Linked DNA regions of Homo sapiens: region 1 is linked to region 2. Evidence: fine-mapped QTL for protein levels in blood plasma. A gene starts in region 2. The other region holds a variant in brackets. All regions are shown on one strand. Distances are from middle to middle.

Region 1 (5,373 bases), 45 kb after region 2:
TCACAGAGAATGAAGTGCCTTTTGTAGGGCCTCATGCCCCCAGTGTCGCTGTTCAAACCTCCATCACAGCGGGTGCCTCATCATACTGGACTGGGTTACTTATTGATCTCTCCGCTAGACAAAGCCCCTCAAGGCCTGTGATACTGTTGTCTTATGTGTAGCCCCAGGGTCTAGGGCCAGGCACACAGCGGGTACTCAATAGTTGTCTATTGAACAAAGACTACATACTGAAGAGCTAGCAGACAGATAGATCTCTGCAGCCTGGTGGCCAGAGTTCTATTTCAGGCAGTAATTCATTTAATCAATTGCTCATGCATTCAATATGCATTTATTGAGCGCCTAATATACACCACACACTTAAAAGCAATGAGAAAATTGGAAAAAGGAAGCAAGGAGGAAGATAACATAAAAAGGGAAGCAGGTCAGCTTTACAGAGAATGGAAAGGCAAGAAGAAGGGTGAGTGCCCATTCCTCTTTCTTCCTGAATTGGAATTCTTGTTTCCAGAATCTTCTGTGACAGTGAAAATAGAGAACAAGGAATCTCGGGAGCTAATGCTCCTCATCCCCTCCATCGTTCTGGGAATTCTCCTCCTTGGCTCCCTCATCTTCATAGCCTTCATCCTCTTGAGAATTAAAGGAAAATATGGTAAGTGCAAGGTTCTGGGAGCCATGGCCATCCCAGGGGGATGTGAGCCTTGGCAGAACCCCAGCAGCAGTGGCGTGGTCCAGCAATGACCACCCGGCCCTGGCCCTGGGGAGATCCCCAAGGTGGAAAGGATTTTCCCAGCATGCCCAGCAGTCATGGACGCACCAGCGGGGAGAACCAGACTGTGCATGTGTGTGTGTGCCTGTGTTTGTGTGTGTGTTTGTGCGCGCGCACATGTGCCTGCAAGTGTTGGGGGAATGAGGAGGGTGGTGTGTCGATGAGAACAGAACGGAACCAGGTAGACTGGGAGAGGGCAAAAAAATGACTTGTAGAATTTCTGCCTCCCCTCCCTCAGCCCTCCCCGTAATGGTGAACCACCAGCACCTACCCACCACCATCCCGGCAGGGAGCAATAGCTATCAACCGGTCCCCATCACCATCCCCAAAGAAGGTAGGATGTCCCCCATCCTGGGTGTGGGAGGGCTGGGGAGGACAAGAAGGGTGAGCTTTCTGGAAGGTCAGCACCACTTAGGTCCAAGACGTACACACAGCTGGAGATGAGATCTGGGCCAGCCCACTCCCGGCCCTGGGACCTTGAGCAGGCTCAAGTCGTCCCTGGACATTGAAGGGCAGATGACCTTCCAGTTCAGTCATGCTAGGACTCTATAGAGTTTTGAGTTCTGGACAAATACAGGCAAAGCACGTTTTAGATCTTGGTTCTCAGAGGAAAGCTCTGTTCTGCTTTGCTCTGCTAGTTGGCTAGTAGGCTTGTGATATCATCATCCCTATCAATGTCCTGCCCAATTGGCCTTGCGAAGCCCCATCAAGATTCTCCTAGAATGTGGTTTTATTTCATAGTTCATATTTTCTAAACAAAAAAACAAATTGGGGCTGGGTACAGTGGCTCACGCCTGTAATCCCAGCACTTTGGGAACCTGAGGTGGGCAGATCACTTGAGGTCAGGAGTTGGAGACCAGCCTGGCCAACATGGTGAAACCCTGTCTCTACAAAAAATGCAAAAATTAGACAGGTGTGGTGGCGTGCACCTGTAATCCCAGCTACTTGGGAAGCTGAGGCAGGAGAATCGCTTGAACCTGGGAGGCGGAGGTTGCAGTGAGCCGAGATCACGCCACTGCACTCCAGCCTGGGCGACAGAGCAAGACTCTGTCTCAAAAAAAAAAAAAAAGAAAAGGTTCAGTCATTCATCCTTTATGATATATGGATTTATACCTCTTGCAGAGGAATTTGAGCTTAATCACCTTGCATTATGAATGTATTCAATCACCTTTATCGGAAAGAGTTCAATGACATAAAAACCAATACAAAACTCAGCCAAATATTATAAATATCCTTTGCACAGAGAGTCCATATATATGAAAAGAGAATGTGAATACAGCATCTAGCATAAGGCTTAGCATAAGGCAGCTGCTCACTGAATAGCACAGTCTAGAGGTTTAGAGCCAGACTGCCGGCTCTGGGCCAGGTAAGAACCTGTCTGTGCCTCAGTTCCCTCCAAGGCAAAATGGGGATAATAATGTACCCACTTCACAGAGTTATCATGAGGGTTAAATGAGGTAATACTTGTAAGTGTTAGAATAGTGCCTCACATATAGTAAGTGCTGTGTTAAGCGTTTGCTAAATAAATGTTTAGTTCTCCATATTGGAAATGAACGAAGGCAGCCTAGAAACTTCAGACTGGGTGGCTTGTACAAGATGGGCTACCCAGGTTGGGCACACTGGTGGATGCCTGTAGTCCCCGCATTTTGGGAGGCCGAGGGGGATGGATCGCTTGAGCCCAGGAGTTTGAGAACAGCCTGGGCAACATGGTGAAAACCTGTCTCTACAAAAAATTCAAAAATTAGCTGGGCGTGATGGTGCATGCCTGTGGTCCCAGCTACTCGGGAGGCTGAGGTGGGAGGATCGCCTGAGCCCAGGAGGTCAATGCTGCAGTGAGCTGTGATGGCACCACTGTACTCCAGCCTGGACAACAGAGTGAGACCCTGTCCCAGAAAAGAAAGAAAAAAAAAGGGGGCTACTTGGTGCTCCCCTGCTACTCTGCCTCTCACCTCTGC[C/T]GTTCATACTCTACCATCCCTCCCTACACCTTTCCGCCCACCACTTTGCCATGCCCTCGACTCTGTTCTCTCCCCAGTTTTCATGCTGCCCATCCAGGTCCAGGCCCCGCCCCCTGAGGACTCAGACTCTGGCTCGGACTCAGACTATGAGCACTATGACTTCAGCGCCCAGCCTCCTGTGGCCCTGACCACCTTCTACAGTGAGTGCCTGGCCGGGCTCCCGAGGGCCCACCTACCTGAATCTGGGAGGGGGCCCCGAGGGGACCGTCAGGTCAGTAGTCCCACCTAGTAACCCCTGCATGATGCAGACAGAATCCCCCTGGTTACCCACTGGATTGACTGTAAATGGTCCTACACTGACGTTTGCACCGTGCTTTGTGACCCTGGGGTCATCTCGATGTCTCAGGACATCTCCACTCTGACCTCTGTCTCTCCCATGTTTGTCTCTGGCCACGTAAGGTCTTAAGACCAGGCCTTTGACATTCACCTGAAGATGGCTCTCTGTGTGAGAGCGGGGGAGTGCGGATGAGAGACACAGTTGGCAGGGGTTCTCGCATGCCATATCCCTCCGTGTCCCATCCTGCCCTGTCTGACCCCATCAGCCCCACTCACTTCCTCACCTCCACGCTCTTGCCAGCTTGTGCCTCATAGCCAGCTCTTTTCATTGCCTTCTGGGGATAGGAAGAGGAAAGATAACGCTGAAGGCAGTTCCCTGGCAATGCTGGGAGGTTGGAATAGACCAGAGCGTCCCACACCTTATTGTGGAATCACTTGGGAGCTTGTCAAAAATTCCTGAGCCCCTCCCCACACCTAATGTTATCAGTCAGGATGAGAATTTGGCTGTGTGTGACAGAAAGCTCCAAATGACAGTGTCTTGAGAGGTTGGCAGGGGCCCAGGCCCCTTCTTTCTTGCTGCTGTGCAGTCCCTAAGATGTTGCCTTCATCTACATGGTCCAGAATGGCTCACCTCCATGTCCACATTCCAGGCAAGGGCAAGGGAACGATGGGATGCTGGAGATGGCCACAGATTCCCGCTCACAACCCAGCACCCAGAACGAAAACCCACTAGCTGCAAGAGAGGCAGGGAAACGAAGGCTCTGTCCTGGGCAGCTGTGTCCAGATAAAAGCCAGAATGGATATTGGGGAACAGACAGCCGTCCCTGCCCCGCCTGCTAACCCAGGGCTTCTGGGGGTGGGACACGGATGATTCCACTTCTTCTGGCCTGTGGACCAGTGTTTGGGCGCCACAGGGATGAAGTGTCTGTCGAACCTGAGATTCCGAGCCCAGGCATATAAGATGCAAGACTGAGAGTCCACAGTGCTATAACATTGAAATTAAAAGTCAGTGGTACCCGGTTCAAAAGAGCTGACTCCAAGATCCCAGACACTCATATCCTCAAGACTCTATAAATCTCTGATTCTGAAACGTGAAGGTGCCACAGAGCCTGTGATGCAGTGATTCCAGACCATCTGGGTTTCACTCTAGGAAGGCTTCTTGAAGGAGCAAACATCTGTCCTTCTCCTGCCCAGAGCTGCCAGGTCACAAGGACAGAACCAAGACTCTTGATACCTCTCTAAGTAGCAGGAGGGACAGCTGGGGCTGGGGGCTGGGGGGTTGTAGGGCACTAGAGTTTCTGTCCCCAGGCTAGATTAAGGCGAAGGCTCTGCTGGATTGGGATATGAACCTGGAATTTGATGGGAAATGCTAAGCCCTCTCTGCCTCCGGAGTTGTCCTCCCACCCTATTCAGCCTACCCAGGCCCCGGGAAATCCAGCCTCTTCTCCAGGCTCCTAAATGATGAGGTTGAGCCTTCACCCCTCCCCACCACCGCCTCTGCTTGCAGATTCCCAGCGGCATCGGGTCACAGATGAGGAGGTCCAGCAAAGCAGGTTCCAGATGCCACCCTTGGAGGAAGGTGAGTCAGGATGGGAAGGGGTGTGAATGGCAGTCCCACCTCCAGAGAGTAGCTCAGCTCAGCTTGAGACCTTCCAGCAGGAACCTCCCTCAATGAGTCTTTCCTGACTTTCACAAATCCTATAGGCAGTAAGTGCTTTCTGAAGTCTGACTTAAAGCCCTCTTGCTGCACTGCTTCTTTCGTCACCATTCTCCCTTTCCTGCCTTAGGACTTGAAGAGTTGCATGCCTCCCACATCCCAACTGCCAACCCTGGACACTGCATTACAGACCCGCCATCCCTGGGCCCTCAGTATCACCCGAGGAGCAACAGTGAGTCGAGCACCTCTTCAGGGGAGGATTACTGCAATAGTCCCAAAAGCAAGCTGCCTCCATGGAACCCCCAGGTGTTTTCTTCAGAGAGGAGTTCCTTCCTGGAGCAGCCCCCAAACTTGGAGCTGGCCGGCACCCAGCCAGCCTTTTCAGGTAAGCTGTGCCTCCCCCAAACCCCCATCCCATAGCCAGCCTGGCTGGAGGAGGCATAAAGCTGGGAGCCCTGAGTCAGGCTGAGGTCAGGATTCTACCCAGTTCCGCAGCCATTCGCTGTGTGCCCTTGGACACATCTCCCATCTCTGGGCCTTCACTTTGTCATTTGCCAAGCTAGGGACTTGGCTCTCGTGAGTCACGTGGGCCCCCCAGCTCTGGCAACTTGAGAAGTGGCTGTGTGCTGGCAGAGGGTGACTGGTTCTGGGGGTTTCCAGCA
Region 2 (5,335 bases):
AACTAGTTTAACATGCATGTTTAATTGAACAAGGTCAAATGCTAGTCAATATTTTGCCCTCCCACCAAATAATAGACCTTTCCCACTCTGATCACTCCTCACCAATTTGTTATTGTTTTATGGTTCTTTAGTTTTATCTCATTTTTTTTTTCTTTTTTAATTTTTTTTTCTTTTTTTTTTTGAGACAGAGTCTCGCTCTGTCGCCCAGGCTGGAGTGCAGTGGTGCAGTCTTGGCTCGCTGCAACCTCCACCTCCCAGTTTCAAGTGATTCTCCTGCCTCAGCCTCCTGCATAGCTGGGACTACAGATGCGAGCCACCACGCCTGGCTAATTTTTGTATTTTTAGTAGAGATGGGGTTTAGCCGTTTTGGCCAAGCTGTTCTCAAACTCATGACCTCAAGTGATCCAACCACCTCAGCCTCCCAAAGTGCTGGGATTACAGGCATGAGCCACCATGTCCAGCCTATTTCATTTTTTTCTAACTCCACAAAGTGGACATTTTTGTAATTATTTTATGCTATCAGTGCTTATTAAATCCACTTCTGTGTTTACATATTTCTTTGCTCACCATTCTTACTTGAATCTTAGACTTTTTTTTCTGAGATTATTTTTCTTGTTTTTGAAGAACATCCTTTAGAATTCCCTTAGGTGAGAGTCTGTTAGCTATAAATGCTCTCAATTTTCATCTGAAAATGTGTCTTTTAAACCTTATACTTGAAAGATAGTCAAGGTTGACAGTTATTTTTTTATTAGTACTTTGAGATGTTGTTCCATCGCCTTCTGGCTTTAGTTATTGGTATTGACATATTAGCTGCCCATCTACTTCATCATTCATCCATCTTCTGTCTAGTGATCAGCAGTTTTGCTACCAAAAATGTTTGGTGTAGATTTCTTTTTATTTATCATGCTTGGGTTGGGGGAGCTTCCAGAATCTGAGGATTGTGTCTTTCATCAAGTCTAGAAATTTTCCATTTTCTTCTAGAACTCTAATTAGACATATTTAAATCCTTGTTCCTTGTCTATGTCTCTTAGCCTCTTTCATATTTTCCACCACTTTGTCCTCCTGTGCTCCATCCTGGGTAAATTCTTCAAATCTATTGTTCACCCCAGTAGTTGTCTCTTCAGCCATATTAATCTGCTGTTTATTTTTATGTATGTATTTATTTATTTATTTTTGAGACAGAGTCTCACTCTCACCCAGGCCGGAGTGCAGTGGCACAATCTCGACTCACTGCAATCTCTGCCTCCTGGGTTCAAGCAATTCTTGTGCTACAGCCTCCTGAGTAGCTGGGACTACAGGCATGTGCCACCTCACCTGGCTAATTTTTGTATTTTTAATAGAGACAGGGTTTCACTGTGTTAGCCAGGCTAGTCTTGAACTCCTGGCCTCAAGCCATCAGACTGCCTTAGCTTCCCAAAGTGCTGAGCCTTAATCTACTGTTTAATCTGTACACTGGGCTTCTATTTTCAAAAATTATGTTTTTACATAACTGCTTGCTTTTTTTCCCTCAATCTTCCTGGTCACTTTAAATAGTCTCTTGTTCCTTATCTATACTTTCAATTACCAACTTTTAATTCTTGAAGCATATGAAACATCCTTATTTTATATTATATATACTGCAATTCCAACATCTGAGATGTGTTCGAAGGTCTGCATTTTTAGTTTATTGCTTGGTGCTCCTCTCACCTAAAGCACCTTGTGTCCTGTGTTTTATGATTTTTCTGTTTTACAAACATGTGAACTCATGTTCCATGGGAGTTTTTCTGTGGGATTTCTTTGAGTCATGAATATAGGATGAGTTACTCCAGAGACAATTTTTATCATTTGTTTCTGCCACGTGCCTAAGGAGCTATTATTTACCTTACTTTAAATTCTTATCTTATCTTTTTGTTTGTTTGTTTTTTGTGTGGTTGTTTTTGCCACAAAGTCACCATGAGTTTCACCTCCAGGCCTATTAGTGGGTAGACTTGTGGTGAGGGGCATTCAGGGTTGACATTTATTTTTCTCCCACTCAGAGTCCATACTGAGTTGGGCAAGCTCTGTGTCAGCTCGCTTTAAGGAATTTTTCTCTCCGAGTTCTCCACTGTGGATGTTGTATTTCAGTGCTCTTTGTTTAAGGCAGAAATTTTGGATTTTGTTTTTCACTTCGATTTTGTTTCTCAGCTTTAACTTTTGTCCATGTTCATAAGACTGAAGCTCTTGGTCAACTGGATCAACAGATACTTCTCTGCTGGCTGTGATCTCTTTGGATTTTTGTTGTCTTTATATATTAACATATACAAGGTCTCACTCTGTTGCCCAGGCTGGAGTACAGCAGTGCAATCTTGGCTTATTAAAGCCTTGACCTCCTGGGCTCAAGCGATCCTCCCACCTCAGCCTCCTGAGTAGCTGAGACCGCAGGTGTGTGCCACCAAACCTGGCTAATTTTTTGCACCTTTTGCAGAGAGAGGGTTTCACCATGTTGCCCAGGCTTATTGTCGTTTTTGATCTCTGATGATTTTCTTCATTTCTCACCACCTCAGCTACACATTTTAAAAGATGGTTTACAATATTTTTGTGGTGTTTTGTATTAGGAGAATTCTTCAGCATCTGCTGTCTACCATATTGTCAGAAATGGAGTCTAGCCATCCTTCCCGGCCCATTTCAAACGGGTTCCTCTTAGGACCAGGAGACCTCACATTATGTGTGTCCTACCTTGGCCTGTGGTTTGGTCACTTGTGTGTGTGTGAACTTCATCCTCCTTGAGGGCAGGAATATGGTTTCCTCTCTTTCACTTCCACAGAGTCCTGTCCAGAGTTCTGCACACCAAGACTGTGTAAATGAATGGAATTGCATCTGGGAGCTCGAGGCACCCATGCAAACCTGTGCTGCCAGTGACTTCCACCAGAGGGCAGCGGCAGCAGGTGCCGGCGCTGGGGCAGGACTGGGAGGAGTCTCACTCTGGGGGCGCCTGGTTCCCCGTGGCTCTAATACTTGCCGCATCAAATGCATACACCCACATTTAGGACCGAACCCAATGGAGGAGGACCGCTCCTCATTCCACATGTTGGGGAAATGAAGACAAGCAAGGATGCAGGAAGTGGAGGGCCAGGAGAGGTGGACCTGGGATGGGACCAATTGAGGCAGGGCCAGGATTTGGAACCAAACCCCTTCTGGATTTGACCACTTCCAGGGCCCTGCTTGGACAACCAAATTATCTATTCCTTTTCTCATTCAATAAACATTTATTCACCTCCTACCATATGCTCCACAGGGAGTACCATGGGAATTAAACACGCTTGGCCCCTGCCTTCTTCCTATAGCGTCAGTCTGCTGCAGTGCAATGGGGCAACTCGGGGTTTCTCAGGCAGCCCTGGGCTTCCTTCCTTCAGCCCTTTGCTCCTGCTATTCCTTCTGGCCCAGAGGCCTCCCATGATTGCTGTTTGTCAAAATCCTGCTCAGCCTTGTAGACCCAGCTCCCATGCCTGACTCCCACGGAGGCATGCCCAGTCTGGTACCTGGAGATGGGATAGCTGGCCCCACTGTGCCATCTGACGGGGCGGCTCCCACAAGGCCTTGGCACCCTTCCCTGTAGAAGGACTTGTGGGATGGCCATCTCTCAGGCCCTTCCCAATTTATATTTCTCTGAGGGGAGACTTAGGCTCTTATCTCCAAAAGTGCATCAAGACCACACCCTCCTTCCCAACCACCATTGCACCTAAGGTTAAGATAAAACTCAGGATTTAATCCAAGAGAGCCAAATTACACGGACCGGGACAGGCAATGGGTCATTCACTCCCTCTTCCAATATGTACTGATTGAGCAGCTACTACATTATCAATTTTTTCTTCTGGGCCACCAGAAATGAGGCATGGCTCTTCCACTTCCCTTCTTCTTAGAAGACCCTCGGGGAAGTGTGTCTGCATGGATGCGTGTGCATGCGTGTGTCTGGCTCCGTGACTCTTGGGGTGCAGCCTGGATGGGTGGGCTCCCAGCACAGGCAGCTGGGGCTCTCCCCACCAGCCCCTGTAACAGCAGCCCAGCTTCCTGCAGACCAAAACCACAAGCAGAACAAGCAGGCGTGAGACACTCACAGGTTGGGTTTGATCGCATGCGTGTCGGAGAGGAGAGAGCAGAGAGAGACACAGGAACAAGAACAGCAAAGGGTAGAGCAGACCTGCGCCAGGGGCGCACAACGGCCGTGTCCACCTCCCGGCCCCAAGATGGTGCTTCCCACAGGCAGCCACGCGTAGCAGCCAGAGACAGCTCCAGACATGTGGCTCTTCTTCGGGATCACTGGATTGCTGACGGCAGCCCTCTCAGGTAGGCCCCCTTCCCTCATCTCCTGCCACTGGTGCTGGAGGAGCCGGGTCCGGCCCTCTCAGTCCCCTTTCTGGTTGTTTCCTTGTGGTCACTTTTCTAGGATCTTTTAGCCAAGACTACACTCAGGTACCAGGGAGGTCCAGCATCTGGGGCTAGGAGAGGACACAGGAGCCCCTCGAGGGGCTGGGGCTGTGCCTGGAAGCCTCCTGGAGTGACAGAATGTGGGAAGCATGCTTTGTGCCTTACCAATGGGTCCCTAGGGTGTGAGGAGGGAGGTGCCTCTCCCATCCTTAAGCTCAGGAACTCCCCCATTTCCTATTTCTTGCCAACTCTTAAGAAGGAACCGTTCACCTTCCAGAGAGGCAGGACCACTGATGGTGGTACTTTCAACGCCAAAGCTGAGGCTTGGGGTCCAGCAGGCGTAGGCCAATCACAGGAGAGCACCTCCCGAAACAGGACTCAGGGAAGCCAGGGAGAGTTCTGGACAACCAGGCGCTGATGGCCTCAGCACAACCAGCTGGGGTAGTCTAGGGCATAAGCGAGCATGAAGGCCACCCCCACGTCTCAAGCTGCCCCCAAGTGTCAAGGCACCTGGCCACCTGGGCCAGGGAATCAGATGGCCAGAAGGTTTGGGGCACTAGACTGTGCTCCCCAGATACTTGCTGGCCCCTGTTGAGTGCAGGGTCCAAGCTGGCCAGAGCGGGGCAGGGGCCTGGAGATGCAAGAGATCCTGACCCCATCGAGCTCTCACATTTTGGGATTTGGGAAGACTGGTATGGAAACAGAATTCGGGCCAGGGGAGTCTGGGTCCACCTTGCAGCCAGAGAGCCAAGTGCTTTCATTTTGTGATGGAGGAGACCCAGGAAGACCCAGTCAGGAGGGGGCATCGAGCTGGTTTGGAGGACTGGGTACATGTCGCGAGACTCTGGGCAGGGAGTGCTCTCCTCTCTGCCTTGATCTCCAGGCATGTGTTCCGAGCCTGTGGCCTCATACTGGTTCAGGGAAAGCCATTCGGCTCTGGGAACTGGAGTTT

Which allele goes with the higher level. Positions count from the first base shown, and alleles are read on the strand shown. Strength reflects both the effect of a copy and how common the allele is.
As copies of C replace T in region 1, the plasma level of the protein whose gene starts at base 4,068 in region 2 goes up (weak association).

Evidence for each region. A credible set is the group of variants that fine-mapping cannot tell apart. PIP is the posterior inclusion probability: the model's chance that the variant is causal. The UK Biobank Pharma Proteomics Project read protein levels with antibody pairs (Olink). The fine-mapping took linkage between variants from a reference panel, not from the people measured, so its PIPs are less certain.
Region 1: its variant is the best candidate, but not a certain one, in a credible set for the plasma level of the CD6 protein (UK Biobank, PIP 0.76).

The regions. Positions count from the first base shown.
Region 1 is chr11:61,012,918-61,018,290 of GRCh38, forward strand. CD6 (CD6 molecule) reads left to right here. Exons shown (of 13, transcript NM_006725.5): 7 at 506-646; 8 at 1,002-1,097; 9 at 2,796-2,918; 10 at 4,562-4,633; 11 at 4,842-5,096; 12 at 5,372-5,373. Among named protein-coding and RNA genes, the nearest start is that of LINC02954, 40 kb to the right of the region's middle. RefSeq lists enhancers at 1-87, 88-677. The variant C/T (reference allele first, on the strand shown) is at 2,719.
Region 2 is chr11:60,967,613-60,972,947 of GRCh38, forward strand. It overlaps CD6 (CD6 molecule), which reads left to right and starts at 4,068. Exons shown (of 13, transcript NM_006725.5): 1 at 4,068-4,302. The coding sequence starts at 4,254.